Linked DNA regions of Homo sapiens: all the other regions are linked to region 1. Evidence: fine-mapped expression QTL. A gene starts in region 1. Each other region holds a variant in brackets. All regions are shown on one strand. Distances are between the middles of the regions. Region 1 holds the start of NUAK1 (NUAK family kinase 1). Region 2 overlaps NUAK1 (NUAK family kinase 1). Region 3 has its middle 89 kb from the start of NUAK1. Region 4 overlaps NUAK1 (NUAK family kinase 1).

Region 1 (8,107 bases):
TCCTATCTGAATCTGGCTAATTATCTCATCTTCCTATGGACACACCTCCCTAATTAATTTGGTATTTATTTTATTACTCTGAAAAGTTGATTATTTCTTCTATCTCTCTCTGCATGATACAATGCATTGTCTCTCTGATGGTCTTAAAATCTAATGAAATCCTAAAATGAGATGAGAAAAAAAATCTGCTAAAAGGAGGAACTAAATTGATTAATGTCCCCTTTTGAGGTTTTATATAGATCACTGTATTCAGTTCTCACAAGTCTATGAAGTTGGTACTCTTAGTAGCTCATTTTACCGATGAAGAAGCTGAGGTTTCAAAAAGTCACATAGCTTGCCAAAAGACACAAAGCTAGTAGGGGATAGATCAAGGATTTGAATGTAAGCCAGGGCTCTTTGCCTTTCTGCAAGAGTGCCTCATTTTTGAGCTTGTTCATCTCTGGAACAAGCCACTCTGAGTCCTGGTCTCACGGACATGCTTTAGCAGAGGCTGCAAGACTGCAGGAGAGTGCCTGGACGACACACAGGGTCGCACCAGCTGACTCCAAGCATCTCATTCTGCACTTCTCTTCAGAACTGCCTTTCGCGGCACATAGAAAATGATGCTGTGTTGTGTTTTGTTTTATTCAGAAGGTCCTTCCAGGTATGCAATTAAAAACCATCACATCCTCATTTTTTAGAAACTTCTCTCCTCTCTGAGAAGAACCCCTGCTTTCAACAGGGATGTTGATTTCACAGCATTTCATACAACCCCATACTCGGCACCTGTCTTGGGCCACTCACATTAGTAAAACACGTTAGAACCACTGCTCCTCTTGAGAGATGCTGTAAAAGGCACTGGTGCAAATGAAAATAAAACATCACTTCAAAATTCTACCCAAAGATCAAAAGGCTAAATTAAGATAGTGCCCTTTCAGTTCTCCTCAACTGCACCTTCAAAGCATGTTGTGAATGTTTAGCACATCGCTGGTACCAGAAGAAAACTCCAAGTTCATATTTTAGATGAAAATGTCTTACTGCTCTTAACAGGTTCTGAGTCACCAGGCACTGTATGGGCAAGAACAACTCGTTGACCAATTTTTTGTTTGTTTGGTGTTATTTTCTGTTCAGCCAGTCACAGGAAATTTTCCACTTGACAATTCCTGTTTCTCACTAAAGTTCTTAACACCATCTGTGAGCAGTGTGCTCAGCAGGGGGAGGACGGGGGGCCAAGGAGGACTTTCCTTCCCCAAACCTCAGTTTTCCCATCTGTTTTATGCAAGGTTTTTACCCAGGGATCTGGCTAACATTCTGTAAGCTCAGCTATCAAGGAGAAAGCAGCCCCATGAATAAACGAAGCATTTTAGAGACTGTCAGTTTCTGGGCGTGGGTCTGCTGCCAGATTTAAAATCTTTACATAATTTTGGGGTAAAACAAGAGATTTAGCTGAAATTAATAGCACAATGGGAAAATGAACTAGGGCTGAACAATAACACAGCGGGACTTCAGATTTGCGGCTGGTAAAGAAGCCTCTCTCGTTCTCAGGGCGCCCCCTCGTGGCCGCTTGACTAAATCCTGACGGAATGTTCAGTTTCTGCAAATACAGAGAAAGACATCCCCCAAAAGAGAAAGGCGGACTCCTGCCTACTGATGCAAATCCCTTTCACTCTAACCTAGTCTGTGGATCAGACAGCTCAAGAACGCCTGACAGGAAGTCCCACTGACGCTCAGAAAGGCGTCTGCCATAAGACAAGGGTTCGTTCGTTAGAAAGGTCTGAGGTAGTGCCCCAGCATTTAGACTTTGGGGTCCCTTCACAGACCCTAGACACACCCTTACCACTTCAACAACCCCTCATAGCCTCACATTCTCAACCTGCAGCTCGAACTGCGTCTGTTTTTCATTATTCTGCTTCCCACCTTCCCAGTGCGATTCTTCAGCAGCTATTAAGACAACATGAGCAGGGATCTAAGCTTAGTTTTTGCTTATTCAACATCCAGCCTGGGGAATATCACCTCAGAAGAAAAGCATGAATGAAGTGCACGTTTCCCAGCCTCTTCTTCCACAAACCTGAAATTGCCTTCATCAGAGGCCACCCTTACAACCCTCCCCTTTAACAATTTCATCCTACGAAAATGGCACCTGCCCAGAGTGAATTCTCAACTACTTGCTTGCTGTAGAATTTATTACAGAGCCAGCTTTAAAAAGAAATGTACGCCATCTCAAATTTCCAATTAATTGATAACAGATTTTTTTTTAAAATAACGTTATGGGACGAAGTTATATAGACCCAAACATCAAATCTGAGAAATGGGTTGGGAGGGCGTTATCCGGGTATCCAGATATTTGAGAATTTGGGGACTGAACTTTGCTGACTGGCACCCCCATGTTTTTTTCACAGAACTGTTCCTGCCGAAATGCAAAAGAAACATGTCAATACTAAGCTGCTATTTTATTTGACAGCTCATTTTCCTTTTTCCCTGCAGTCATTTGTTGTTTATAAGCAAACCTGAGCCTCCAAAACACCCCCAAAAGTGCACACAAGGAGTCCCATAATCAGTTTCTGACTTTGGCCCTAAATCGATTAGAATACATCTGATCTGCTTCAAATCAAAGAACCATGTTAATTTTCTGCCACACACCACACAAAATCTTTCTGCAACAGTCAGTCACTTTGAACCCAACTCTCTAGCCACAAGCAGTGTGGATTTCAAGGGCCTGTTCTGCAGAAGTGAAAATAACAACAAACCAAGGCTGGGACAAGGCAGACAGACCCCAAGGCACTCAAAGCACTCCTTGGAGCTGTGCAAATGGTGCCAGGACCCTGGCAGGGTGTCAGCTGTCACAAGAGCAGCGGGGCCAGACCCCTTCAGCGGTTTGGTAGCCCTGCAACCAGGAGCTGAAACACAACTGAGCCTGCTGCAACTAAGCACAGCTATCTCTGTAGCTACCCATGCCCTGGACATTTCGGTCCTCCCAAAGCCATGATGCAAACTGTTAGAATCCTCAGGCTTGCAGTAGTCTTTATTTTTGCTCCCTAACCTTGTCTCAAAAACAGGCAAGAGTCGCCCTCCCTTGCAGTCACAGCAGTATCAGGGCGATGCAGAGTCTGAGTGGGAGGATGCAGAGCAAGGAGCTGCGGGCAGATGGGTGGAAGGGGGTAGGGACACCTACAAAACACCGGACTTGAGGGGCTAGCTCCTAGCTGGGAATGTGGTTCTTTGGAGAGTTGTGGAAATAAGACGTTTCGGGGCATGGTCTAAATGAGTGCCTGCGAGGGAGAGAGACCCCGGCCGTCCCAACGCTGCAAAGTGTTTGCAAATCTAAAACATTCCTTTGCTGCTAGGATTAAATTTTTAAAAACAAACCAAAAAATAAAATAAAATATGTGCAGACAGGATGTAACAAGTGTTTCAGGACAGAGACACGCCTGAGTCACGGGGTGCTGGAGAAAGAGTGAGGAGTCTGTCTCGGGGCTTCCCAATGAGCCCCCTCTCTGTCAAGAGAGCCCCAGGGCGCACAGACCCCCGCCTCGCACGCCCTCAGTCCCCGGCCGCGTCCACCCAGCGCCCCCCGCACCCTCCAGGATTGCCCCACTCACCACTCGGCCAGAAAACCTCTCGGTGGCCCGCTTGACTTTGCCGTAGGTGCCTTTGCCCAGGGTCTCCTGCAGCTCGTAGCGGTGCTTCAAGTTGTGCTTGTGGTGATGCCGCTTCACCCCGTGCGGCTTCCTGGGCTCCAGGGCTGCAGTCGCCCCCGCCACCGCCTCTCGGGGAGAGCCCGGCGCCCCCAGCCCCAAGTCGGGGCGGTCCCCCGCCACAGGCGCGGCGGCCCCTTCCATGTCCAAGCGCGGGGCGAGCCGGGCTACAGAGGGCAAGACCGGGCACAGCGCTGGGATGTCGGGGTCCCCACCGAGGGAAGCCGCTGTACGCTCAAGGTCGCCCCCGCAGCATCAGGGAGGCGGCCCGATACCGCTCGGACTGCGGCTCGGTCACTGGCGGCGGCGGGGACTGCACATCTGGCGCCCGCGGCGCGCACGGTCCGCGCACCGCCCCCCGGCCGCGGCGAGCTGTGGAGCGTCGGGCGAGGTGGCGGCGGTGGCAGGGGAGGCGGTGGTGTTTGCAGGAGGGAGGGGAGAGGGTGGCTCGCAGCGCAGGAGGGGGAGTGTTATGTGGGGCGCCGCGCCCCCCAACCCCTCCCCGGGAGGACGCGCAGACGGGGCGGGGGCGGCGCTCGCGCGGCCCCAGGGGAGGGGGAGCGAGGGGCGGTGCAGCCAGGGCTTCCCCCACCTCCCTGCAGCCACCCGGGGCCGGGGCCGCCGTGAGCTGGGAGGGGGATGGGAGCGTGTCGCGACTCGCCCTTTGTGCGGCGCGGCGTAGGCCACGGCGGCGGCGGCGGCGGCGGCCAGGAGTGCTTTGTCCTCGCTGGGCCGGAAGGGACCGGGAAATTCCAAGCCGGGCGCCCCCTCCCCGGGCGCTCTCGGGCTCGCCAGTCGCAGCTACCGCGGGCCCTCCGCCGCCTCGGGCTCCGGGGCCGGTCGCTCGGCCTGGATTCCTGCTGGCGCCGGGGCGGCGGTTGCGGCTGGCCGAGCCCCGGGGCCGGGGAAGAAAGAGCGCCGCGAGCCGGGGGCCGCCGGGACCTGCTCGCGATACGGCCGGGGCCGCCGCGGGCCTGGGCGCCCCTTCATTTTCTTGTAGGTGTCGCCGCAGCCTGGCGGCCGGAGCTGGGGGAGGGGGCAGGGAGGCCTGGTGTTCGGTTACAGGCGGTGACTCACGGACCTTGCCCGCCCGAGGCTGGCACCCCGCGGGGCAGAGCTGCGCCCGCCTGGGGCAACTCCGAGTCCAGGAGAACCCCAAGAGCGGCGCTTTGGCCCCGGCCCCCGCGCCCTCTCCGAAGAAAGGAGAGTCAGGGACGGAGGGAGGCCGGGAGGCTGAACCCCGGGCCCGCCGTCGAACCGCCGGCCCTCCGACACCATCTGGACCCCGGCGGGGACAGCCGCCTGGAAGGGGAGGAAGGCCAGGGACGTGGAAGAGATGGGGCTCTAAAGGCGCCGGGACGGAGCTGGCTCCCCAGAGGCGCCCACCCTGCCAGCGAAGGCCGCCATCGGAGGTGGGCAAACCAGGGACCTGGGGTGGACCAGGACCCCGGGCCTGCTGAGCAACCCGTTTGCTGAGCAGGAGGCGATTTGCAGGCCTCTTGCCTCCTTAGGCCTTGGGAGATTTCCTTTCACTGAAAGGGCCAGATCCTGGCGATGGTGACAGGAACGGTACCCCGCACGGTAAGGGTCAGGCAGGAAGGGCCTCCCACCGCGGCGTGGCTGCCGCCGTTCTAAGAAGAGACCATGAAAAATAAGGAAGAAGGCTAGAGAAAAAGAGGTCTTAGGGAAATTTTTTTTTTTAACAAGTGGTGCAATGTACCAGACTAGGGTGGGAAGAGTGAAGGCTGAAGAAGGTCTGGTGTTCTGCAGATCGCATGGCGGTTCTTTTCCACCAGTGGACCTCACTGGGGCCTCCTCTGCAGCTCTCAGGTGCAGCCCTTCCTCTACATTCCCGCCGCCTTCATTCCTGTCTACCCCTGGTCACCTTACCCCGGACTCCAGCAACAGCCCGCTCTCCCCAACCCTCCCCGGGAGCCTCCTCACTGCTGCCAGAGTAATGGCCTGAAACACTGCCCTCATCCTCCACACGTGTCTCTGCTGTACTCTGACGCGTGATATTCTTACCTGTCCAAACTTTCCTTCTACTGATATTTCACACAAACTTCCCTGCCCCTTCTTCCCTTCCCCAGGAGCAATGACAGAACACAGACACAAAGGCGCATCATGCCTATTCAATTCCTATTCTGTCCACCGCATTTGCAGGGCCTCCCTGCCACCCACCCCCATCCTGAAACTGTTCTGCTTCTATACAGTTTGTGGACGTTGTGCCTATAGATCCCACAGTCAGGATGAGTGGCATGCAGGTTGAGTCCTGGCTTCCCAGAGGATTGGCTGTGTGGCCTTGGTCAAATGACATAACCTCTCAGAGCTTCGGTTTTCTCTTAAGATATGGATTTAGCAGATCTATTGTAGAGATAAACACATTGTGTCTACAGTAGTATTTTAAAATATTTTCTACTTCTTCCCCTCCCCTGCGATGTGGTAGAAATCCACTACCCCATCCTCTTGAAGTTAGATGAGACCATCGGACTTGCTTAGGCCAATGGAATGAGAGCAGAAGTGATTGTGTTGCTTTCACTTGGAACCTTTAGGAGCCAGTGAGCAAATCCCCATGTCTTCTTTTTCCTATCTTGACAATCATGGTGGTACAAAGTTGGAGCCTCCCCAAGCCAGCCTGAGTCTCTGTGTAAAGATGGCAGAAAATCCCAGCCAATCTGCATTGGAAAAGTAGTGTCAGCAAATATTAAACTTTATTTATGTTAAGTCAGTGGGATTTGTTAAAGCAGCATAACCTGGCTTATTCTGGCTGATAGTGTTACTCCCAGATATGTGGGACTTCATCAGTATCTATTGAATCAACAGCATCATCTACCATAGGCTGGTACTGTTTTATGACAGTAAACCCTCCTCTGTAAAGTAGCTGTTTACAATCCCTATTTTCAATTGAAGAAACCGTATCAGAAAGGTTAAGTAATTTCCCAGAGGTTACACAGTTTGTAAATGGCAGGACCAGGATTTAAACCCTACCTGTCCAGTTCCAAAGCTCCCCCTTCTCCTTTCATATATGCCATGCTCCGTCTCCTTAAATGGGAAGGATGAAAAACACCCAGTACAATGCCTAGCACACAGTCATGCCCAGGCACTGGGAGTTCCTCTCCAGACTGAATTCCTACCACGTTTATAATTGGAACCACACTTCAGCACAATGCTATCAGGCATTGTGTGTGAATGTTTTCACATCGATAAAGCATTTTCTCCAACAAGAGCCCAGGCTCCTTGATTAAGAGCTTCAGATCTAGAGGCAGAGTGACTAGGTTCAAATCCCTGTTCCACCTCTTATGATCATCTTGGATAATTGTTTTCCCCCTCTATGCCTCAGTTCTCTAATCTGCAAAGTGGCGATGGTAACTTTCATGTGCGTCTGTGTGAAGAGACCACCAAACAGGCTTTGTGTGAGCAATAAAGCTTTTAATCACCTGGGTGCAGGCGGGCTGAGTCCAAAAAGAGAGTCAGCAAAGGGAGATAGGGGTGGGGCCGTTTTATAAGATTTGGGTAGGTAAAGGAAAATTACAGTCAAAGAAAGGGGGGTTGTTCTCTGGCGGGCAGGGGTGGGGGTCGTGAGGTGCTCAGTGGGGGAGCTTTTTGAGCCAGGATGAGCCAGGAAGAGCCAGGAAAAGGACTTTCACAAGGTAATGTCATCACTTAAGGCAAGGGCCGGCCATTTTCACTTCTTTTGTGGTGGAATGTCATCAGTTAAGGCAGGGCAGGGCATTTTCACTTCTTTTCTGATTCTTCAGTTACTTCAGGCCATCTGGGCGTATACGTGCAAGTCACAGGGGATGCGATGGCTTGGCTTGGGCACAGAGGCCTGACAGTAACAATGTATGTGGTATTAGCAATTACGCCAATAACACATCCCACAGGGTTGGTATGAGGATTAAGGGCTAGACTATATCCACTCAATAAATCGTGGATATTAATACGATACTTTTCATCTTCCATAGCTCCTACTAGAATTTGGAGCCTTTTTTTTTTTGCGATGGAATTTCACTCTTGTCACCCAGGCTGGAGTGCAATGGCACGATCTTGGCTCACTGCAACCTCCGCCTCCCTAGTTCAAGCAATTCCCCTGCCTCAGCCTCCCAAGTACCTGGAATTACAGGCATGTGCCACCACGCCCAGCTAATTTTTTTGTATTTTCAATAGAGACGAGGTTTCACCATGTCGGTCAGGCTGGTCTCAAACTCCTGACCACAGGTGACCCACCTGCCTAGGCCTCCCAAAGTGCTGGGATTACAGGAATGAGCCACCGTGCCTGGCCTGGGGCAATTTTAAGCAGTTTAATCATACTGCTTGGTTAGACTCTGATTTCTGGTTTTGTTCTTGGATACAGGACAGATGTAGTAACATTGGCACTTGAAAGTGTGACATCCACACTATCCTACATCTTTTATTTACATAAGGCTCATTAC
Region 2 (8,107 bases), 23 kb before region 1:
TCTCAAATAGGAGTCACCCATGCATCTTGAAAAAGTGCAGATTCTGAATCCATAGGTCTGGGTATCCAGCCTGGGATTCTGCATTTCCAGCAAGGTCCCAGGTGATGCCAGCCCCAGGGACCACACTTGGAGTAGCCAGGTCTTAGTGCTTCGTCTTTGACCCTCAACATTTTTAAATCAGTGGCAATATTCTTAATAATAGCAATAATTAATATTTCTTAGGTGTTAATCATGTGCCAGTGGACCTTATCTCATTTAAGCCTACCTACAATCCTATTTTACAGATGAGAACATTGAGGCCAGGAAAGATAAATATTTCCCAAAGTTACATAGCCTGTAAAAAAAAAAAAAAAAAAAGTGGAGCTAGAATTCGAGCCCAGAGGCTGCTGATTTTTAAGGCTATGAATAAAGTTGGGATGAATAGAAAACATCACAGGGAACAGAATCTCCTGTAGGATCCGAAAGGGTCCCTAAAGCCTAGTGAGATGGACCCCCCTCCAAGCAGATGAAGTTTTACAGGGTCATATGTGAGGTCCCAAAAGGAGGGACTGGAGGGCTGAGCAGCAGGGAAGAAACACAGTCATAAATATGGCATTAGCATCACTTAGTGAGAACAAGTTTGCATCCTAATCCCAGCAACACGAGCTGGCAACTTCCCTGCCATTCACAAGGTGTGATCTCATACCCAGGCACGTTCCACGGGAGCTGCAGGGCACGAAGTCAGAGGCAGCTCAGGGGATCTCTCCTTACCTAGGAGCCCAGAGGCCGCCTGCAGCAGGAGCAGGCAGCCAAGCCCGGCTGGAGGCTGTAAAGTGCTCCTGCTCTTGCCTGGGAGATGCACAGAGTGTGGGGCAAGGCACAGCCCCACCGAGGCCACACCGGTCCAAAGCTCCCAGGATCACCATGTGGCTTTCACTCAAAAAGCCTCTGGCCGAGGACAGTCACCACGGTGATGCCACCCATCTTGCAAACAAAGCCCCTAATTAATTAAATGACCCCGGGCTCTTTATGGAGGGGCCTGGCCAACTCAGAACAACACCCCAGCAAGTTGCTGTGATGCAACGGGCCCCATGGGAACCAAGCCAGCTCTGCCTGGGGGCCCATGGGCCTCTTCTTCCCTTCCTCTTTAGCCTGTTGGTTCATGTCCTACATGAATGTATTTCAGAAAGAAATGGATTGGAAGCCAAGAGTTGTATCAACAGGCTCTGAGGCGAGGCACTGAAGCCAGGGAGCATGGTATGTGTAGCTAGGAGCTTTTCCTTCAAAGAGTGGCATCCCCTCACTGGCCCTCATCAGCCCTTTAATGTTGTAAGAGGTTCTGAAAATTTAATCCTCTGTAACTTGGTTCTCAAACCTCTATTTCTCAAAATTCTACATAAAAGAGATGATGATTCCTGTGATGATATTGATTTCTCTCCTGCCATAAAAAATGCATTCTATTTTCAGAACATAAAAAACAAAGCAGATTCGTGCTTGACTGGGCCTGGGCCAGCTCAGGAGGACCTCAGGGCTGGGACATTTTTATCTACAGGGACAGTCATTCCTTGGTCTCTAAGACTCACCCCCACCCCTCTCCCCTTCAAAGACTGAGCTAAGAATGTCATTGCAAGTGGTGATGCCACAAGGGAAGTGGAATTAATGACTAAGAAACCGTGGGCAGATTCACACTCCCTGTTGAGGTTTGTAAACATAAGATACAAACCGTGGCTGACCAGGCAAGAACCAAAGAAATAGCAAAAAGGCCACCGGAAAGTTCGTGCTGAGTGGGCATGCCAAAAGTGAGCCACAAACCCGCCTGAAAAGGACAGTCAGAGACTCTAGAGCACTATCTGTCCAAGGGTGGTGAGCAGATCACCTGCCTCCGATCCCCTGGTTAGGGGGAAAGGGGAAACTGATTGCTAAAATGCAGATTCCTGGGCCCACCCCAGAGCTAGTGAATGAAGGTGGCAGTGTTCAGGGTAGGGGGCAGACCTGGTATCAGCATTCTTTACAGCCTCCCAGGTGATTCTGCTGCACTCTGAGGTTTGAGAGCAGTCACCTTAAAGCAGGGTAAATGTGGCCCTGACGACACCTATTGTTCTGTAGCTTAAACAGGAAGCAGTTATATTACATACTAGATGACTGATGAAAATTAATGAACCTTCCATTTATACACAGAGGAATTAAACACAGGCTTCCTTGAGGGGGCTCAGTGACTTGAATTAATTTACCCCTGGTAAATGGAAAGTTTGCTTCCAATGGGTATCTCCCTAGTCCCAGCCCAAGGAGGGCCTGTGGATGAAGTGATGCCAGGGAATGTGGGTGTGGATGGGTTACTTCACAGTCTACACATAACCCGGAGCACGAAAAAGCCTCTGGTAACACAAGAGACGCTAACACAGACAATATCAGATTCAAAGAAAGACTGAAAATGCCAGGCCATTTAGCTGAGACTGGAGTTGCCAAGCAGCTGTTTATTTTTGGACGTTCACGTCTCTGAAGCCAAATGCAACACCAAATCAGAATTCTAAAGTGCAACTGTTTTTCTTCCAGGTTACAATTGCCCTGGGAAGGGAGAGAAAGGGCTGGGCCAGAGGGCTGAGGTTGCTTACAACTTGGACAGCCTCAACTGGTAGCATCTGATCACTCTGACACTGTTTATAACAAGGCTTGGATAAGCTTAAGGTTGTGCAACTTTTATTTATCAACCTCCAAACCCAGAAGAACCCGAGCCAGTACTGCTAAGAAATCCAGCATCTGCACCTTGGGCTTGTCATCAGTCACAGCAACCCAGCCAAGGCGACTCCTATAAGGAGAGGGACTCGGATAATCACGCCACCGGCTCAGTTTCCTCACCTGCAAATGAGGATGATGATGGTACCAACCTCACAAGGTTGCTGTGGCAACATGGCAGATTGTGTATATGATGGAAGGCAGAGAAGGCAAATAGTACCTACGGCAGAAGCCAAAATGAGGACTGTTATCATGAGTAGATGTTAGAGCTGTAAGGACTTAGAATGCTCTATGCCAATCTCCTCATGTTACAGATGGGGAAACTGAGTCCCAGGGAGGTTAAAGTACATACAGGCCCCAAGTTCACGAAGTTATCAGCAGCACTGGAATTGCAACAAGAGAGTCCTGATTCCCACTCCAGGAGGGATAAACACTCTGAGCAAGGGGTCCTTCCTAATCAAATACTAAGCCACAGTGAGCAGCAGGGCTGAAACTGCCACAAAAAAAATTCAACATTTACATGGGAGGCTGGCTCCAGTCACAGCCAAGTCCCCAGAACTGTTGCATCATTAATAAACCGAGATGGGAGTGGCAGATACTCTTCAGGGTGCTGACAAATCATGACTTGTGCTGCAGCTTGGTGTATTTCACCTCCATCTAATGTCTGTCCTCACATAGCTATGCCAGAGACGCTGTTTTCAGTTCAGTTCTATCCAAACTTTCCTCCAATTTCTGAAGACTGATTTAATATCACCCATGA[A/G]TACGCATACTTGGGAAGTTTTCATCCTATTATTTCTTAATTCATTGCAAACACTGCTATTAAATGATAACTTCAGGCCACTACTGAATCACTAACCTTGGGGACAATGAGCTAGGAACACAAAAACCTAAGAAGCAAAATTAGTTTTCCAAAGGGAAAGGAAATTAGTCAGTTGAGTTTAGCTGATCCAGGTGAGCAGAACCAAAAAAACTTTTCTTCATTTCTTAATATGGTAAAATACAACAAGCTAAAAAGAGGCATGACTTTCTATCTTATTTTATATTCTAATCATGAATGGTTTTATAAATAAGTGAAAGAGAAGATTCTGCAGAAGTTATTTTTATCCAGACAGAATCTCTTCTGTTTAGAAAACTGATTTATAGCAATGTACAAGACCTATCAGATAGGGCGGGAGCAACCGTGCAGGCTGCAGTCCGTCCCCCAAAGCCTCTGGAGAGCACTCAGGAGCCCCCGAGGCCTCTCTCATTATCTCCTCACAAGCATCTTTTTCCTTCCAAGAGAAGCTCTCATTGTCCATTATTCCTAGAGTTAAAAGGCTGGTCCCTCCTCCCCAGCCCGTTGCAAGATCCATCGGGAGGCTTGTCATCTCCCTCATTAGTGCTCCACAAGCCTGCCTGCTGGGATGCTCTTGCTCATTGCAAATGCACAGCCCCAAGAAACCGCAGGCTGAGCTGAGGAGTGTGCTCGGCCCCAGACGAGCATTTCCTGCCGTCCCATCATGGGGATGAGCCTCGCCCAGTACTCAACTCTCAGTTCCTACCCTCAAGGAGGCTGGGGCAGGGGTCTGTGGTCATCTTGGAGACCCTAGTTGTGCCCTGGGTTGGGGAGTGTGCTCATGCCCCTAGACATGGCACCTGCCATTTTCTCTGCCAGGATCCTCCACATCCTGTCCTCGCCATTAACATTTTCGGTTGACCAACTCCTCTGCATCCATCTGCTGCAGACATGGCCCATCCCCTGCAATGACCCCTTTGCAGATATGGGTCCCCTTTTATAACCTCGCTCACCATTGCTCATAAGCTTCATTTGCACGAAAATCATTTCTGTTTTATGCACCACGGCATCTCCAGTACTAAGCATGTGCCTAATGTACAGTATATACAAAAAAGCTGTTGCTAAAATGGAGCCCAAGTATTAAGAAGGACCCTTGACAAACAGAAAACCATAGTGGGACATCTGATCATTCCAGCCAACCTAAACCCCAGCCATCTGCCGCTGAGCCTTCTTTTACTTGCTCACCTTTCAAACGTGGAATCCCTTCTTGTCCCAAAATCACTGAGCCTGAACTTCCTCATCTTCCAAATGGAGACAATAACAGTGCCCACTCCAGAGGGGTTGGGGGTGATTCACAATAAAAGCTAGCAGTCATAATAATTACCAGTTATCAAGCCCTCACTATGTGCCAGGCCCTCAGTACCTTTCTGTTAAGCCTCTCAACCTCTCACTCATTAAATTCTTACAAAAACATTATTATTTCTGCCTTCTCAATGAATATAAACTGAGTCTGAGGGAAGTTAAGTAACGTGCCCTAAGGCACATAAATAAATAGGAGGTCTGGGTCTCCATACGCTGAAAGACCATACTCTTAACCTCTGAAGCACACTGACAAAGCAATCAGCACAGTGCCTGGCACATAGTAGGTGTTACATAAATATGAGCTGAATCAGAACCTCTGGACATGAAGGCCCCATCGAGGCCGCACTGCCTTGTCCCCACCAGAAGTCCTTTTGTTAGCTAATATTTAAACCACTTCCATCTTCAAAAGCACATCTATCAATCAGTGTTCCTGCTGCTTTCTGTGGGACCAGGTGGGCAAAAGGCAGAATTGTATGGGAGGGGCTGGGAGGCATGTCCCTAAAACGATGTGAGAATGAGTCGATTCCACAGCAAGCAATTGTGGAAAATCTGTTCTGGATAAGGCATTGATCCAGTCCTAGAGAACATGAACTAGACCTACCCTTCAAGTTGCCTACCATCCTACTGGAAAGGCCAGTAGACACAGGGGCTCCTCCCTGCCCAGCCCCTCCCTATTCACTCTCCTTTTGGGAGGAACACCCTGACTTCACTGTGAGGACTATTCCTACCCCCAAGATGCCTTTTGAAAGAGACCAAGATACTTCACCCTCTCCCATGCCAACAGGCAGGCACACAACTCTAGAGCTAGCCCTGGAGATGCTCTTTCTAAGGTTTCAAGAACCATCCCAGCAAAGTGTTCTTTTGGGAGCCCACAGACACATGATGTGTATGCACACAGATGGGGCCTCTTGAGAAGTCATTCCATGCATGGCTCCCCCATTTCTATCCCTGTGTCTTTCTCACACTCCTAAATAACTATCAGTTCAAACCAGAAAACCGAGTCTCACTTTGCTCAGCTATTCATTTTCCCATTTCCAAAAAAAGCCAAGGCAGTGTTGCTGCTGCTTCTCTCTCACACTGCGTGCCTTACACTCAGTCATCTCCTCCATAAAATGGGCCTACTTCACTTGACCGGTACTAGTTGAAATGCAGTCTTCAGGACCCACATAGATGTCATTTTTATAATAACTTCGTCAAACACCACAAAAATACAATATCAAATTATTGTGGAGCTTCATCCCATTTCAGGGGAGGGATTCAGTAAGGATAACATTGACCTACTTTGCACAAAGGTGCAGGAAGTCCAGCTTCATTCTCTGCCAAATAATGTTCACACCTACAAACTATTTACCTGCCACTGTCCATGCTACACAATGACAGTCAGTATATAGCCTAACAAAAGGGAAGGTCATTCATTGTCAATGCCCCAGACATAGCAAGCAGAGACTGCAAGCCAGGAACTGCTGTGTTCCCCTCTGTGTCCTCAATATCTAGGAAAGGATCTGGCTCTATAGTAGTAGACTTCCAATAAATATTTGTTGAGCTTAATTTTATAAAAAATGATGACTATCGTAAGTCTTAATTTGTATAAGAATTATTCCTTTCTTACCTATCCACCCACTACCTGGCCCAATATCTACAAGTTGCTGAAGTCGGGCAGTCTACCCAGATTCCACTCTGGTCCAAGTTGCCTCTGTACTTGTGGCTAAGACCACAAATCCATGGAGGCAATACCATGCTGTATGAATGGCCTCCCACCTATAGATACAATGTCATCCCACTTCATTTTATTGCCCCCACCACCACCCCATGAGATAAGCTAGAAATTTTGCAGGAGAGGAAAACAGAAACCAACAAGAACTCCCCAAGTTTCCACAGGTCACAAAGGCCCCACCCAAGTTTCAACCCAGGTACTTGGATCCAGTGGCCAATGCTGCTTCCACTGGACCACGCCTGTTTCCACATTTGTCAAATCTATGGAAATATGTGGTAAGGAAGAAAACACTCTTAGCCCTGGCATTGTGATGCTTCCTTTCTCTGGAATGTAAAGCCTTGGGGGAAACTAGCTCAGATAGCAGATTGCTCAAATGTCGTGGAAGGTCTGGTCGGGGAGCTAATCAGAACAATTTGAATGTGCGGCTAAGCAAGGACACTCCTTCCTGGATCAAGCGTTGCTTTGATGGCAATACTTTATAAGAACCATTCCCTTACAACAAAACTGTCAAATCCAGCAACCACAGGCCAGAAACATCCCTGCGGAACCCCGCCAAGCTGCTTTCTGATGTACTGTACACACAAATACCAATATTCCCCAGATGTTCTCCATGTAAAACATTTGGTTTGAGACACTGCTCTTCTTTCCCAAAAACTCTTACATTTGTTTAATGGACTCATACAGTTCAGCTAAAATATCCTGGAGCAGACATCTGAAGCCAGCCCGGCTCTAATGTGAGCATCCCATCTGCAGAAAAGACGAACAAGTAAATAAGACCATCCTTCCCAAGATTTATGCTCCTTGCATCTTTAAGCAGGTCATAAAATGTAAGCTATGTAAGGATAATAATGCAAGTTGCTTTCAAGTGTATTTCTGAGTCCATCTCAGTATTAATCTAAGACTGATGTTCCAACAGAGACTGGGTCTGGCATGCTAATAAGGGGACTAAATTCTACTTCTTACTCCCTCAAAAAAGAAATCTAAAAATCTGTCACTTGAGCAACATAGATGACTGAGATAAAGGTAGGTTTTTCCTGGTTTTAATTATCCAAATATAGCAATAGCTTCTTTATGCCAAAACCACTATCTCTTAACCTGTAGTGTAAAACACAGGTAAGAGGTAGCAAAATAGAAAATACACTTGACCTTGAGTCAAGAGACCCAGCTCAGCCACATCCTAACTGAGTGACCCCGACCAGCCCTATTTACTCCAAGGTGGCTCATCCTGTTACCCAGAAAACACGACTTCATGCTTGGAGCGCCATTCAGCCCTGAAGACTTTGGGGAATGGAAATAAGCCCTTAGAAATGCCACTCAAAGAAATGCCATGGATTCCATGCACGGCGCCCCTGCAGATCGTCACCCATAGTTTTCCTACTAACACAATTACGAGGAAAGCTTACTCACAGAAAATCTGTAGGGAAGCTGGAAAAATGGAACTAGAAAGCTGCTAGACACAGCCTCACTGACAGAAGCAAGACATGACAACTCACTTTCCCCTTAATCTTTAACTTTTCTGTATCTGGCGAGTTTTCAGTATTGAG
Region 3 (8,107 bases), 89 kb before region 1:
TATGAAAACAACTTCCCTTACATTATCTCTGCTATTATTTTCCATTTTGCTACCTGTAAAATATCAGTGATATTCACAACGATATCCTCCTCGGAGAGTGATGTGAACACTAAGTGAGATCATGTGTGTCAGATGCCTAGCACAGAGTAGGTGATCAAGAGTTCACATGCTTAATTCCTAAACTCTACTGCATAGGCCTACATGTGTGCAAAACTAGTGAATATTTATGTATCGAATATTTATTTTCTATATTTGAATATTGAATGTATATCTATATTGAGTATACGTATATATTGCATATTTATCATAAATAACGCCTAAATGAACCAATTCTTGTCAGTGCTCATAAGTCACCTTCACAGATGGTTTTTATTGGAGGTCATCCCAGGGAACTTTTGAATTGGGGTTTCCTCTCTGTGGAGCCTGAGCTTGGCTTGTTTCCATTTAGCCTGGTCCTCACACCAGTGACAGTAACTAAACCACTTTTAATCAGTGGCCTATGACTGGACCTGCTCCAGATATCTCAAATCAGGAAATAGATCACAAACGAGGCCTTCTTTTTGTTCTTTCTGTCACTGGCCTGGCTCAGAGCTGGGAGGATAATGGGGCAGGAGAAGAGAGCTGTGTTAAGGATGCCAGATAGGGCTCAGAGTACTGAGTGCACTGGGTGGAGCCCCTAACCCACAGACTGGTCTCTATGATTAGCGTCCATTGTACCCAGGCAGAGTCCCAGGTGGGTGGGATTCCATCTCATTTCCTTTGCAATGCTTGGTGGAGAAGGACAGTAAAGGGGGCAAGGAGAGGCAAGACAGAAGATGAGGTTCCCCAGTGGTGGTCTCATCAGCAGAGCCTCAACATCCCTTGTCTAAATTTCAAGTTGAGAGAGAGTAGGCCATGCTACACAATATATACTAACAAAAGGGGACCAACTCAGAACAGATGTCTGAAAGCATATTTCACTAAATAGGGAAAAATAATTAAAGTTCTGCCATGCCCAAGCCTCAAAAGCAAACGGGTCAGAGCTGTTTGGCCAGCTACTGCTCCCATTCAACCTGTCTCCCCAGAGTTCTCTGAACCACGCACCAGATAGAATCCACCTGCCTCTTCTTTCCTCAGAAAGGATCTGAAACTTGACTGTCACTGCAAGAAGAGGCCACAGGATGTGCATATAAAGTAGGTGACCTGAGTTCAAGTTTGAGCTCTGCCCTGTACAAGCTCAGGATCTTGGGAAAGGAGCTTCACCTTCCTGGCAGCCTTGGTTTCCTTATCTATTAAGTGGGGATAATAGTAGTTCCCTGCTGGGTTGTTATGTGGATTAAATGAGATGGTACAGGATGATTTGCCATTTTCTGTGAGTCATTTTTTGGCTGCACAGCAGTTGAACCTTCTGGGCCTGTGACCCAGCCAGACACACCTGCTCAGAGTTTTAAATCTCAAAGTAATGATCCACAGACGCAGGGACAAGGCAGGATCCATTTAGGCAATACTGTATTCACCAGAACCATCCCATTTTCTAGAGCAGTGGTACCGCTAGCAATGCCCAATGGCCAAAGGCCAGAGCTGGCTGTGGTAGCAAAGCCGCCACAATGCCAGGGGACAGCCAGGGTAGCTGTGGTCCACCCAACACCCTGGCTCTATGGTCCAATTTTGGCTGAGTTCTGGCCACCTTGCTTCCTCTATATTCCCAACTATTTCCCAAGCCTTGTTTTCCAGCCTTCTTGGAGTTTCTGGGAGATGCCTTATATTCTTTCATAAATTTTCTTTCTGGCTTAGATTAGCCAAAGACCCTTTCTATTCCTTACAACTCAGATCCCGGTCTGGTATAGCAGTCAAAGGACTTGGCATGGTGTCTGGTCCGCAGCAAATGTTCAGTGTATGCTAATTTCCCTGTGTGTCAGTGATGTCTCCTTCCTATTTCTGTTCCCTCATAACCATAAACATAATCATTATTATTGGTTTCTGATTTATCTTTCTGGCTTTTTTGTGTGTGTTAGTTTTCTATTTGTATTAGTTTGTATTGGGGCTGCCATAACAAAGTACCACAAATTTAGGGGCTTACAAACAAAAACCATTCATTATATCAGGGTTCTGTAGCTCAGATGTCTGGCATGGCATGGCTGAACTCTGCTCAGGATCTAACAAGGCTGAAAAGGTGCCTGCAGAGCTGCATTCTCTTCTAGAGGCTCTAGGCTGAAGCCCCTTCCAAGCTCACTCGGGTTGCTGAAAGAATTCAGCTCCTTCCAGCTGTAGGACTGAGGTTCCCATTTCCTTGACCTGGGACCCCCTCCATCTTCAAGCCAGCAACAGAGCTTTGAATCCTTCCCATTCTTAAAATCTCTCTGACTTTCCCTTCTGCATTCCCCTTCTGCAATTAAGGGCTTGTGTGATTACACTGAGCCTACCTGGCTAATCCAGGATAATGTCCCTATCTTAAGTCAACTCATTGCTAACCTAGATTTCCTCTGCAAAGTCCCTTTTGCCATGGAAGTAACTAACATGCAATGCCCCCAGAATTAGGGCTGGAGTCTTGTGGGGGCTGTGAGCCTGCCCACTACACTCTCCTTCCCAAAGTCACCTGGAAAATGCCTCCATTTTCTCTTCTTGCTAAAACTGTTGGTATCACCTGGACAATGTTTTCAAGTGATATCTGTGGCAATGTGCTGGAGGAAGCAGAGAAGAGACCAAGCAGTCAGGGACTCGGCTCCAAAAATATCTAAAGAGCTTCAGTGAAAGATGAAGAGAGCGGAAACCAGGCAGAGAAAGCAGAAGGGGCACCGAGAGTGATGAGGAAACCAACTAGAGATGGAGGGAGGGAAAGGAGAGGGGAGGCAGGAAGCAAAGCTGGCTCTTCCCAGCCTTCCATCCAGGCATCCCGTGCCAGAAGGCAAAATGCAAAACCAACAACGAGGAGAGGCAGATTTGCTAAGTGAGAAGAAAGGGATTTTTACTTGAACACGTTGAATTTGAGAGGCCTGAAGAACAAAGTGAAGATGTGTCTCCATGTCCAGGGAGGAGGCAGAGGAAACTTGAGAAAACTCAAGCTAAAATAAAATAAAAAATATATAAAATAAAATTTTAATAGTGAAAGCAAAGGAGAGAGAGGGAGGAGAAACTCAGAGTGGAAAGGACAGGCAGGGGAGGAAGGACGAGAAGCAGTGTCTCAGACATACTGACAGCGCCGCACAGGAGTCACAGCTCCCGGCTCTGGCTGCTCACAACACGTGATTTCAAATTCCCATCTGCTGCAGAAGGCTTTTATGCTTTCATGTGAGTCTGCGGCCCAGCACAGGCCTGCAGATATAAAGGCTGCTTAGGGATGTTCTGGAACTCCAGATGGCACCCTGGGATTCCTGCCTACATGCCTTATGCTTCCTGGGCCCAAGAAAGATGCTGCCACCTGAATTCTCCCCCGTTCCTGCCCACCATCTCGAAATGACTCGCACAGCAGCCTCTCCCTCTCTCCCTCTCCTTT[C/T]CCCTTTCTGCTCCTTAGGTCTCTGCCCCAGGATATAATGGAAAGACCAAGGATTCTGGAATCTGACCTCTGGAACCTAGGTCAGTATCTTCATCAGCTGTGTACCCTTGAGCAAGTTACTTAGCGTCTCTGAGGCTGATTGTTCACATATAGAATGGAATCAGCAACACCTATCTCAATAGGCCTGTTGTGGGTTAAATGCCTAGCACAGTGCCTGGCAAGAAGGAGAAGCCCAATCGATGTCTGTCCCCATCCTCCAGCCTGGCACACAGGCCTGTGGGTCTGTTTTCAGAGGCAAACAGGTCCAGCCAAAACCCCCAGGGCCAGGATGACTACGCTGAGCACAGCTTTATGGTCGGGGAACTGAGTTGCCATCTGTCTTTGCTACTGATTGATACAATCTTTGGCCCGTTATCACCATGGCCTCACTGAGCCCTGATTTCCTCATCTATAATATAGGGACAGTGACAGCATGCACCTCCACTGAGGATCTCTTATTTGCCCTGTATTAGTCTGTTCTCATGCTGCTAATAAGGACATACCCATGACTGTTTAATTTATAAAGGAAGGAGGTTTAATTGACTCACAGTTCCATATGGCCGGAGAGGTCTCACAATCATGGCAGAAGGCAAGGAGGAGTAAGGTCTCATCTCACATGGTGGCAGGCAAGAAGAGAGCGTATGCAGGGGAACTCCCCTTTATAAAACCATCAGCTCAGCTCTCGTGAGACTTATTCACTATCACCAGAACATCATGGGGAAAACCTGTCCCCATTATTCAATTACCTTCCACCAAGTTCCTCCCAGACATGTGAGAACTATGGGAGCTACAATTCAAGATGAGATTTGGGTGGAGATACAGCCAAACCCTATCATGCCCCTTCAGGTGCATTCTCCACCTGCTCTGAGCCTTGGAAGCTGACCTGTGTCAACTACAGGAAGGGATATCCACCCTCTGACTTCAGCAGAGGTTCAGCAGTCATTTCCCAGGCTCCCTCCCTGCAAGTTCACCTCTGGCTGGCTGCTTTCCCTGGTGACAGCTCCTGTCAAGGAAGCCCTCTTGATAGCTCTCTCCTTCTAGAGTCCAGCAACTGCTCCCTTCCTCACACTGTCATTACTATCTGTGTAGGGAAAAACTCTCTCAAACTTTGCTTTTCTTCTGCTTTCACACCACCACAACAATCATCAACACAGAAGACTTTTGTAACAAAGATGTGGAGATTCGTCCCCACACACCAAGCAGCAGACACCAGTTGGGCATCCTCCAATTCAATTCCAACACTATCTACCTGGAGATAGGGTCAGTCCCCAAGACTCCCTTTCTCTCCTGCACCAAGACACCAGTCACAAGTCTGGACTTCTAGAAGTTCTGACCAAGTGGCTTCAAGTTGGGGTTCCCACGACCCCTGTTTTGGGTTTAATTAATTTGTTAAGGCAGCCAGAACTCAGGGAAATAACTTAAGTTGACTGGTTTATTATAAAGGATATTGCAAAGGATACAGATGAAGAGATACTAGGGTGAGGAATGAGGGGAAGGGGTGCAGAGTTTCCATGCTTTCTCTTGCTTGGAACATGTGCAAGTTCCTGGGTGCACCACCCTCCAGGAACTTCCACATGTTCAGGTATCCAGAAGCTGTTCTTCTGTTGCAAGTGACAAGAACCCAAATCAAACTAATTCAGCCCAAAAAAGGAGAATAACTCTCATCACTGTGAAGTCTCAGGTTAGTGTTTGCTTTGGGGGCAACCTGGCTCAGAAGATCAAATGATGCTACAATACGCATTTCACTTACTCTCTTAGTTCTGTGGTGCTCTTTCTTGGCTTCATTCTCAGGCCATCTCTGTTATCACTTGGTGATAAAAATGGCTACCAGTAGTATCTCTAGGTTTACATCATCCTCATGGTGATTCCAGAAAAAAAAAAAAGAAAGAAAGAGAAGATGATGACAACAATCATCACAAATCCCTCCCCGTCAACATCCATACTTGATCACCCAAATGGCATTGATTGGTCGTGTTTGGGCTTTAGAATGAACACTGAACCAATTATTAGGTCTAGAAGAAAAAAAAAATTGAACTAGTCAGAGTGAGTGAAGACCTTGTCCCTGTAGTGTGAAAGGTAATTACAGCCAGGTGAGGTCCCACTGAATCACATTACCTTGGGAGAAACAGAATCCCAAAAGAAGTGATACAGAACTGACACAAAGCAGATTTCCATATAGGACCATATAGATTTCCACTATAGGACCATTAGGGGCACAGACTATATAGTCAATAAATGCTATCAGAATGGAAACTAAGAGTTCTGTGAGATTAATACTTTCTCCTCTCTCTGCCCTCTCACTCCCATCTCTTTCTCCCTCTCCCCCGAGTCTCTCTGTTTCACATATATATTCACATACACACACAAAGAAGTGGTTTCAAATAGTCCCTGGGGCACTAACAGAGGAAAATGGCCATAAGGATGAATTCCAGTATTACTCACAGGATAAATTCTCTTGTTACATCATGAGGAAAAGAAAAACCATTAACTGAGGCATAAACTTCCTAATTGTGAAGAGCATGATTGGCAGGCGGTGAATACCTCATCGTTCTCAAATAGACCATAAGCTTCAGGAAGCCTTTAATAATAACCTATTATACTGACATGAATAAGGTTGAGATGGAGCAGGCTATGCTGAAGTGGTAGAGGCTGAAAGAGAGAGAGAGAAAAAAAGATTGTTCTTGATGTCCCTTTGTATCTGACCCTTATCCAGATACTGAAATTGAACCACCATAATGAGCCAAGTATCATATTCCAAAAAATCTGCCAGACATTCCTGCCGTTTCAGCTTTATTGAATTACTATGTAGTGCAGCCTTAGAAATATAAATCATGGAGAAGCAGGAAATGCATTTATTTCATTAACCCATCTAGACTTCGTTGAATGTCTGCTAGTGCCTCTCTTAAAAATAGCCTTAGAGTCTTACCCCGCAAATATGTTTGAATTCTGTTTACCAGCAGCAGTAAACCTGACGATAGACTATTGTTTAATTCCTATTTCTCCTCAAAAGCACTTTCACTCCCATTTAGTTGGCTGCATGTTGTACAGAGCTTTAAAGAAGAACATCCTTGTGTCCTTTGTCATTTCTTGGTCTTCCACGAAGTAGCTGGCCAGACTTGCTTTTTTGCTCCCATTCCAATCAACCAGCCACAAAGAGGAAGAAATAGTTCCTGAGGTTGGCAACAGTTATCTGGATGCATGCAAAAAGCCCAAATCACCTTGGACACCAAACTTGGTGCTCTGTGAAGGAGTTGCACAGGAAAATGCTGAACTGATAGAACCAGTAATGAAGACAGAGATGATTTGGTCATAGCAAGCAGCTTTGCAAGCTTAGATGGCAGAGCAGAATTAGGACCAGAAGCTCTGGAGTTAGATGGCCTGGGTTCAAATTCAGACCATAGCACTTATCAGCTGGGCAACTTGAGCCAGTGAATTTCCTTCTTCCAATTTCCATTTCATCAACAGTACTAATGTTTACCTCCAAGGGCTATTGAGAGGTGGCTTCAAGAAAAACAAATGAGTGGGCAGGGGGGACCTGTAACCTACAAAGCATCACTCAACTTTGTTATTATTATGACACTCAGACCAAAGAAGACAAGGGACATATATGTCTCAGCTTGAGACAAAATTTCAGAGTTTATCCTTGCCACATTTCCTGTGAGAATTCCTTTGCTTTCTCATCCTGTCCCATTTCCCAAGGGGCCTATGTTGTTCTCCATGATTACTCTTAATTAACACTTAATAAGTCTCTCCTGAAACATTAATAGCTGGCCAAGCCTTAGCTGACAATGGCTTAATGTATGATACCTCCCAGGGATGTTGGCATTTATTTTAATTTGAAAGGAGACCCTAACTTCTCTCCTAACCACCCAGAAACTCCACTAGGGTCCAGGGAGACATCCCTAAAATGTCACCATCTGGGCCTTTCCCACATGATCATATTGAAAGTTTGGGAGAGAGTAAAAGAATGAAGAGGAAGAAAGCAAAGGAAAACCCACTGGGAGCTACATTTCCCTCCCAAAACAACAACAAAAACCTAGTGCCTGGTACACAGTAGGTTTTCCATTAATAATCTTAAATGGAGGAATAAATGATAGAGTTAATGAACCAGCAAACAAATAAATGAAGAACTGCCCCATAATTTCTCCATTCACTCACAAGGAAGAAAATAAATAAAAGCTAACTTTGGCAGGGCACCTCTGAGAAGTCACCAACTATAACAGCAAACTCCCTGCCTAATCCTTCTTACTGGAATTGTAGCACTAAGAATAGCCAGTTTGCTTTTTACTGACTGGGTTCTTACCTGCCTTCTTTCTGGAATGTGGTCCAAAAAAGGGAAGAATGGGATCTTGATCATGATGAAGGGCACAGGCTATGAAGTCTATCATATTTGGATTTTAGACCCAGTTCTGCTAACATCTATTTGTAATTGGGCAAAAGACTTAATCTCAACTTTTGCTTCTACCCATGAAGGAGAAACTCCTATGGGATACACCCTGACCCACTGAAAACACAATCTACAAAGAGAACAAAATATATTCAAGAAGTGTTTTCAGACATTAAACAACAAGTAACACAGGACCATAATCACCAATA
Region 4 (8,107 bases), 65 kb before region 1:
AGAGATGAAGCTCATGACCGTGGTTGTCTTGACCAATAGAACACAGCAGATGTGACACAATCTGGGTACAAGCATGGACATGGCACTGGCACTCCAGCCTGGGCAACAGAGCGAGACACTCTCTCAAGAAAAATTTTAAAAAAAGAAAGAAAGCTCGGCAACTTTTTATTCCTCCTTCTTAGAACCCCAAGCTGCCACTGTGGGGTGGCACCTCAGAGAGCACTGAGGAAGGTCCACCATTCAGCCCCAGCAGCAGCCCCAACTGCCATCTGCTTACAACTGTAGGAGAGGAAGGCCATAAGAGCACTTCCCAACCCACAGGGGTGAAAGAGATGATTTCATGGTTGTGTAAGCCACTGAGTTTGTTTTGTAGGGGCAGATGGGGTAGAGTTGTTACACAGAAATCAATAATGAGACAGAACCCATGAGCCATGCCCCATGCCAGTGGCACAGTAGTGAGAGACAGAGCAGTGGCCACCCTCACAGTATTTACATTCTCAGGTGAGTGGTTTCTATGTCTACTCAGACTGGGAGAGACCTCATCTAATATCTTTTCCAACGTTTTTATTTATGGTGGAGAATCTGAATCCAAAGAGATTAAGTGACTTGTCCAGATCCACAAAGCAAGCAAACAGGACTCCTAGAAGGTGTGCTCTGAAAATTTCCTTTGGGAAGGTTTGGGGAAAGCAGCCTAATAAGCCAGTTTTGCCAAGGATGACACTTCTGGGAAGAAGAAAGAGGAAAACCAGGTGACTCCAGACAGACATACTAAAACAAAAGCAGAAAATAAGAGTTGGGTAAGCAGATCTCTCTCCCCTCCACCTCTGACCCTCCCTCCACAGGGCACGCACCTGAGGGCTGTGTTGGCTCCCGGTACTCTCCGCTGCTGATTTGCCGAATGAGGTTTTTGTGATCGAAACCATCGAAGGGCATTGTTCCATAAACAAGAGTGTAAAGCAACACACCCAGGGCCCAGCTGTCCACCTGGAGCAGAGAGACAGCACATATAGGAGAGCTGGGAAACAGATCCCAAGATGCCTTCCAAACCATTAGCATCATAGCCTGTGAGCAGCCACCCCCAGCAGCCCCAGGAACTGAATTTAGCACCTGGAAGATAGGTTCCTAGTGCAGCCTGACACCTGACAGCAATGCAGCTGGGACCTGCTACAGAGCCTGACCTTTCCATTCTGAACAGAGGCCAGTGGTCCCAACTAGTAAAGAACTTTCTTAAACAGATTATCTTCTTTAATCCTCACTACAATTTTGTGAAGCAGTTAGAGCCAGGACTATTTTCAGCCCCATTTAAAAGATGAGAATACTGAGGCACGAAGAACCTAAATGGTTTCTCCAGAGGCCCTGCCCCAGTGACGGAGGTAAAACTGGGATGCGGGGCTCTTCATTCCTAATCCAGGAATCAATTCCTTCCTGCACTTTCTTCAAATGAATCAGGAATTACAAACTGAAATCTTAACAGATATACACAAAGCAAGAAAGAATTGGGGTTATGACATAGAGTGTTGGGGATGGAGACAAACTGTACAGTACATTCACCCGTCTTAGGCAGACAGCCTCTCCTTAGCTAATTGCTGCCATGTAGTAACATGGGCCCAGCACTGCTCGATTCTTTGGTTTTACAAGAGAAGTCAGAAACCAAACTTTTACATGAAATCTCCCAATTATTACATGTTTGTTCAATTTTTTTAATAAAAACTAAGGTGGCCAAATAAAGGAGTTTGCTGACCAGATCACAGACTGCTAGCCTGGAACCTCAAAAACAGGTCATCGAAGACCAAAATATTCATTATCTATGAGAAATTTCGTGTCGAGTTTCTACAAGTTTGTAAATTGAGTTCTATGCTCCTCCCTCACATTCTTATTTTAGAAAGACTTTCTCTTCATTGCAGTTAATAGATGGTCTTGGCATCCTTCTCTTTACCCTTCAGCCCTGCCCCCAAACACTCTCAAACACATAAATATTTGAAAGAAAACATTTCAACACACTGAGCAGCTGCTATTTAAAGGATACTGAGTGGATGAACTCTGAAAAGAGAACCATCTTTCAAAAAGAGAATCATCACTCACAACTCACTCATTTTCAAAATAAAATTTCCATATACCCATATCTTACAGTGGCCCTTGAAAGCGCTAGCATGTAGGGAAATGTATTTCTCATGAATTAGAAGATGTCATTAAAATGTATTTCCTTAGTCAGATATGCATGCTGCCAAAAATATATACAAAAAAGATATTTACCCCAGAGTGAGGCAATTTTTTGTTTGTTTGTTTTGTCTGTTTTGATATAATAGGGAAAAAACTAAATGTTCACATCTAGACATTACTAAATAAATTTTGGTATATTCATTGATAAAATGTCATTAAAATCATGTTTTTAATAATGAATTTGGAAATTGCCACAAGATAGTTTTCATAGTAAAGGGCAAGATATACATACGTGTGTCACATACATATGTATATCTTGCCTTTTATTAACTTGATCTCAATTATTTTTGAAATGCAGAGATCTACATTGGGAAAAGTTTAAAAGTCACTAGAGTTTTAAGTGATTATCTTTTCTAGGGGGATGGCAGGTACCTTTATTTTCTCCTTTAGGCTTTTCTGGGTTTCCCAAATTTCCTCCCAGGAGTATACATTAACTGCTTTTATAATCGTATAAGGAAACGTTTTCCTTGCTGGCTTTTTTAGGCTCTGTTTTTTTAAGCATTTCTCGAATCCAGTTTTTGCCCTTCCTCCCTCTTCTCCCTCCCCTCCCCTGCCCCATACACATTGGGAAAGCTGCTCACCTCTGGCCCTCGGTAAGGTCTCCCATTGACAATCTCAGGAGATGCATAGAGTGGACTCCCACAAAACGTTTGTAAGAACTTATCCTTCTGGTACAGGTTGGAAAGCCCAAAGTCAGCAATCTACAAAGAGAAGCAAGACCCAGGGAGACTTGTTAGCATTCCAGATTATGTCTGTGTTGGATCAGTTCACACCACACAGCACACAGAGTGGATGAAGGGCACCTGGGTGGGTCTGCTGGCTGGATCGCCATTTTCTCTCCAGCCCTGAGTCTTCATAAAGGACCACTCAGCCCAAGCAGGTCAGTGTTTCCTAGCTGCAGTCCTTGGCATCCATCACAAGTTCTACCAAATCTGCAGACTACAAGCTCTGCAACTTACTTAGAAATTACTCTTTAAATGGATGCTCTATTTAAACTTTAATTTAGACTTGCTTTGAGAAATAACATTCACAAAATCACTGGCTTGATGTTTCTGATGAACATTAAAGTGTGTAACTATTAATTTAAGAATTCTCCCTCTGTGGTCTACCCAATTATGCTGCATCTGCGGTGGTGTGCATATCACACTGCGGAAAAAC[C/T]CTGACCTACACAACTGGTGATACCACCTCTGTATCCACTCACACCCTGATCAGAACTGTATTTTGCCTGTCTTGTGACTCAAGATGAAATGGACTAATTGACTCACAGCATTGGGTTTTGAGTCATCATATTTCAGTCCCAACTCTGCTCCTATCTGTCACTTAATGACCTTGAGCCTCAGTTTACCCACCAGAAAATGGGAATCCATGATCCCTTCCCTGTTCTAGCTCACAGGATCATCATGAGAATAATAAGAAAAAGAAATCAATCGAGATGAGACCTTGGCCAGGCGGATCACTTGAGGTCAAGAATTCGAGACCAGCCTGGCCAACATGGAAAAACCCCGTCTCTACTAAAAATACAAAAATTAGCCGGGCGTGGTGGTGCATGCCTGTAATCTCAGCTACTCGGGAGGCTGAGGCATGAGAATCACTTAAACCTGAGAGGCGGAGATTGCAGTGAGCCAAAATCACACCACTGCACTCCAGCCTGGGCGACAAAGCGAGATTCAATCTCAAAAAAAAAAATAAGATGACACCGTGAGTGTAACAGTGGTTCATAACCTTCAAGTTTGATGCAAATGTTTCATCTAGCCTTGTTTTCATTGTACTCCACACACCTTGGAGTCATTCTCTTCTCCTTTGGTTTCTTGAAGTGTTTTATGTGTTATCATTTATGACAGCACTTTTACATATATATGTATATGTATATGTACACATATGTACAAATATACACATATACACATATATACATACATATACATATATATATTTGCTTTCCCTACCAGACTCTGAGTTTCCTGAGGCAGTTGGCAGGTTCCACATCCTCCCCTTATCTTTGTATCATCCACTGCTTAGCACCTGCCCACACCCAAGAAACACTTGTCACTGGTACAGGCATTATATTTTGAAAAGCACAAGATAATTAATATATAATGCAAAATAATAATAATAATAATAAACTTAGTTGCCACTTTTTGAACAACTTCCAATTATCAGGTACTGCTCCAAACACTTTATTTAATCTAATCTTAACAAAAACCTGGTTTACACAGCAATGTGAATGCCTTTCATGCCTAAAAAAGGTTAAAATAGTCAGTTTTATGTTATGTCCACTTTACCACACATTTTTTGAAAAACTCATTTAACAGATGAGGAAATTGAGGTTTAAGGAGTTTGAGGTTACTCATTTAAGGAGATGAGTAACTAATATGCAGCAATATAAACCCCCGTGTCTCTAAAGCTTCAAACCACAGTGCCACCCTGTCCCTGGGTCACCTGTATATTTCACTCCACTCTAAGCCAGCCTTGCAAGCTGAGCCCCTGTAGGTTTCCATCATTCTCCAAGCTGATTTCCATTTGAGGCTTGGAAATGAGCTGCATGATTCACATGCCCAGAGAGAGCCCAGCCTGAATACCACCGAGGCTCTGTGGTGGTCACAGCCCCTAGAAGCAGCCTATTTTGTAAAAGTCATCCCTGAATGAATGGAATGTCATTGAAAGCAGCTGGTGTACAACCAGCCTCAGAAAATGCATTCTCCGGGCTCAGATTGCACTTCATTGCCCTGAATTCCACTTTCTTATCAAGGCCCCTGACTTGCTTGCAGGAAGTTGGTTGGAAGCTTTATGAAGTGTGCCCTGTCAATCAGAAGAGGCATGGAATGGCTACGCACAGGAAAATGCATTCTCTTCCCGCCTGGCAGTGCCTGGGGCACCATATGAGCTTCCAAATACACGTGCGTGTGAGAGGCACCCGCTGCACATGCACACACTCACACCAGGAGTTTTCATTCCAAGTCTGGGCAGCCTCATTTGCTCTGTAGCCGTTCTGGAGAAGTGTGTTTATGTTATGGCCCACTCCTATCCTCACAGACTGATGTTTATCAGCCTCTCCCAGTAAAACTGTCATTGCCACTGACACAAGATTAATAGAAATCTAGATTAGCCTGTGTTCTTGGCACTTCGATGGGAAAGCAGTATTAATCAACACACACACACACACACACACACACACACACAGAGAGAGAGAGAGAGCGTTCTCAGATCTTGAGCCATTCAAACTTAGGCTTCGGCTCTAAGATTTAATGCCATACGGAACTTATATCAACTATTGATAAGAGGGGAAATGGCCACTGGTTATGAAACCTCTCTGAAGCTTCAGTTTTCTCGTCTGTAAAATAGCGTTAGGAAGAGTGTCTATCCCTACTGTGTCATGGTGGAGATTAAATGACATAAAGTATGTAAAGTCCTTACAACAGTAATTGGCCCAGAGTTGGAGCTCAATATATATTTGCTTCCCAACTTTAAATCCAGGGAGTTAATTACCTTCGTTATACTAGAAGCAGAGTTTATCCCAATGCCAGGGACTCTTGACAGTGAAGAAATAGAGAAATTTCAGATGCCAAATAATAATGGAATTAAATAACTTTGAATAATAAAATGAAAAATTCATTCCTTTCTGGATTCACCTTCAGTTCTTTGGATTAAGTCAAGAAGAAGGTCTCAGTTGGGCACTGGTGTGTCTTCAGTATCTCTTTAGCATTTATCAAAGAGACCAGGCCTCCGGCCTAGCCTGCAGCAGCAACCAACATCAAGCTGGAACTTCAGAATGCTATTTGGTTTCCATTATACTTAGTTTTGAGCTTATCTTCTATTCATGGTAAGTGATACTGGTTTTCCACTTAAGGTAATTATTTAGGGCTTCTTTTTCAAATAGACAGAACTTTAAAAAGTGACCTGAACTCAACAAAAATATTAAGTAAAATAGCAGTGAGGATACTGCGGAAAGGCAAAAATCCATGAAAAGGATGACAAACTGAAATTTGAGAAATACTGATTTTAAACATCATAAAACAAAATCTCAGAATTACTTTGACCTGAAAGAGCCCTAACAGATGTTAATCCTGCCCCTCGCTCTAAAAGTGAAGCAGCTGAAGGTTCCAGGGCATAAGAAGTTTTGCTAAAGGTTGCAAAGAACAGCAGCAAGTACATGAAGGAGCACATGGGTCTTCCCAAGCCGTACAGTTTCTCCAACAGAACATCAGCTGCAAATGGAGAGGATGACTTTCCAGCAAGGAGGCGACTGGGCTGAAGAATTTTGCTGACACACTAGCAGGCAAGCTTTGGAGAAAGGTACCTACCTAGCTGGCATTTTTGCTTGTTGTTTTGACTGCTCCCCTGCCCCATACTGATTCAGAACCACCTTCTGCCCCTGCCCTGTGCTATTCAGTTCAGCCTCAATTCTCGAAAGGAGCCCCGGAACTCAAGGCTCGGGTCCTTAATATTTGGAGTTTTTATTGTTATCAAGCCTTTCCAGAGGTGTTCCCCACTGCATGAAAATTGGGGTTAGAAAGATAAATGAGGAAGTAATTATTCATTCACATTTCAAAAGGATTAACCTCACTACAACACAGATGAACCCTGAAGATGTTATGCTAAGTGAAATAAGCCAGACACAAAAGGACATATATGATTCCATGTACATGAGGTCCCTAGAGTAGTCGAATTCAGAGATGGAAAATAGAATGGAGGTTGCCAGTGGCTGGGAGGAGGGGGAAAGGGGAGTTACTATTCAGTGGGGACAGCGTTTCAGCTGGGGAAGGTGAAAACATTCTAGAGATGGATGATGGTAATGCCTACACAACAATATGAGTATACTTAATGCCACTGAACTGTGTACCTAAAACTGGTAAGTTTGATGTTACATATATTTTACCACCATAAAAGGATTAACTCCAGAACACTGTTTATAATGAGCTCATCTGGTGAAAACTGAAGTGTCACCTTGCTGACATTAACTGATAGGAAAGGATGCTGATGGCAATGATAATAATTAGTGATGGTCTAACAGTCATCTGCAGTGTTTAAGAGGAAGTGTGGTGCACTCCACAGATCAGACATTTTGGGTCCAGGAGAACCTGGGGCTAATCATGGCTTTGTCGTTACTAGGTGATGGGTGGGACCTGCCAAGTCACTCAAGTTCCTCATCTGCAAAATGGCACTCAGACTAGAACCCACCTCACATAGGTAAGAAGAGTAGAGAATACGCATGTAAAGCTCCTGGAATAGTCCTGGGACCAGCTGACGCTATAAATTACAGCCATTATGGTAAGGCTGATGGTTTGGCCGACTTAACAATCGTTTGTTAGACCAGGCAAACAGGGAACCAAAAGCATTAAAGCCACTGCCCATTAAAGAGCCAGGAGATCTTACCACTCATTTATAATACAGTCACGTTCAGAGTGAGAAGCTGCATCATAGGATGGGAAAAGGAAAGGATTCAGGGTTTGAGCACTTGAGTTCAAATCTCAGCCTTGCCTCGTACCAGCATCTAACCCAAGGCGCTTTAGATAATCCCACCCCACTCCAATCTGGCCCACGGACCAGCAGCATTAGCATCACCTCGGAACATTTCAGAAACTGAGACACTCAGGCCCTGCCCCAGATCCACTAAAACTGCATTTTCACAAGAGCCCCAGTGTATAATACGCACTTGCACATTAGCCATTCTAAGCCTGCATTTCTTCATCTGTAAAGTGGGGTTGATGATAATAATGTCACCTACCTGGAAGTGCTGGTACCAAACCAAATAAACTGATTCATGGAAGTGCTTACACCATGCCTACCTAGCACACAGTAGGCCTTCAGTAAATGTTAGCTATGACTACTTTATTTAACCTCTCTGAGTCTCAGATTCCTTTGTTGGAAAATGGAATTGCAATACCGCCAA

Evidence for each region. PIP is the estimated chance that this variant, and not a neighbour inherited with it, causes the effect.
Region 2: its variant is the best candidate, but not a certain one, in a credible set for the expression of NUAK1 in blood mononuclear cells (TOPMed, PIP 0.83).
Region 3: its variant is the best candidate, but not a certain one, in a credible set for the expression of NUAK1 in cerebellar hemisphere (GTEx, PIP 0.61).
Region 4: its variant is the best candidate, but not a certain one, in a credible set for the expression of NUAK1 in whole blood (TOPMed, PIP 0.89).

What each region holds. Positions count from the first base shown.
Region 1 is chr12:106,134,836-106,142,942 of GRCh38, forward strand. NUAK1 (NUAK family kinase 1) reads right to left here and starts at 4,119. Exons shown (of 7, transcript NM_014840.3): 1 at 3,579-4,119. The coding sequence starts at 3,818. RefSeq lists enhancers at 1-130, 2,548-3,049, 5,441-6,060.
Region 2 is chr12:106,111,565-106,119,671 of GRCh38, forward strand. All of the region lies in intron 1 of NUAK1 (NUAK family kinase 1), which reads right to left. Among named protein-coding and RNA genes, the nearest start is that of NUAK1, 23 kb to the right of the region's middle. RefSeq lists enhancers at 3,628-4,204, 4,205-4,781. The variant A/G (reference allele first, on the strand shown) is at 3,473.
Region 3 is chr12:106,046,016-106,054,122 of GRCh38, forward strand. No RefSeq gene overlaps it. Among named protein-coding and RNA genes, the nearest start is that of NUAK1, 89 kb to the right of the region's middle. The variant C/T (reference allele first, on the strand shown) is at 3,473.
Region 4 is chr12:106,069,923-106,078,029 of GRCh38, forward strand. It overlaps NUAK1 (NUAK family kinase 1), which reads right to left. Exons shown (of 7, transcript NM_014840.3): 5 at 2,802-2,921; 6 at 852-984. Among named protein-coding and RNA genes, the nearest start is that of NUAK1, 65 kb to the right of the region's middle. The variant C/T (reference allele first, on the strand shown) is at 3,379.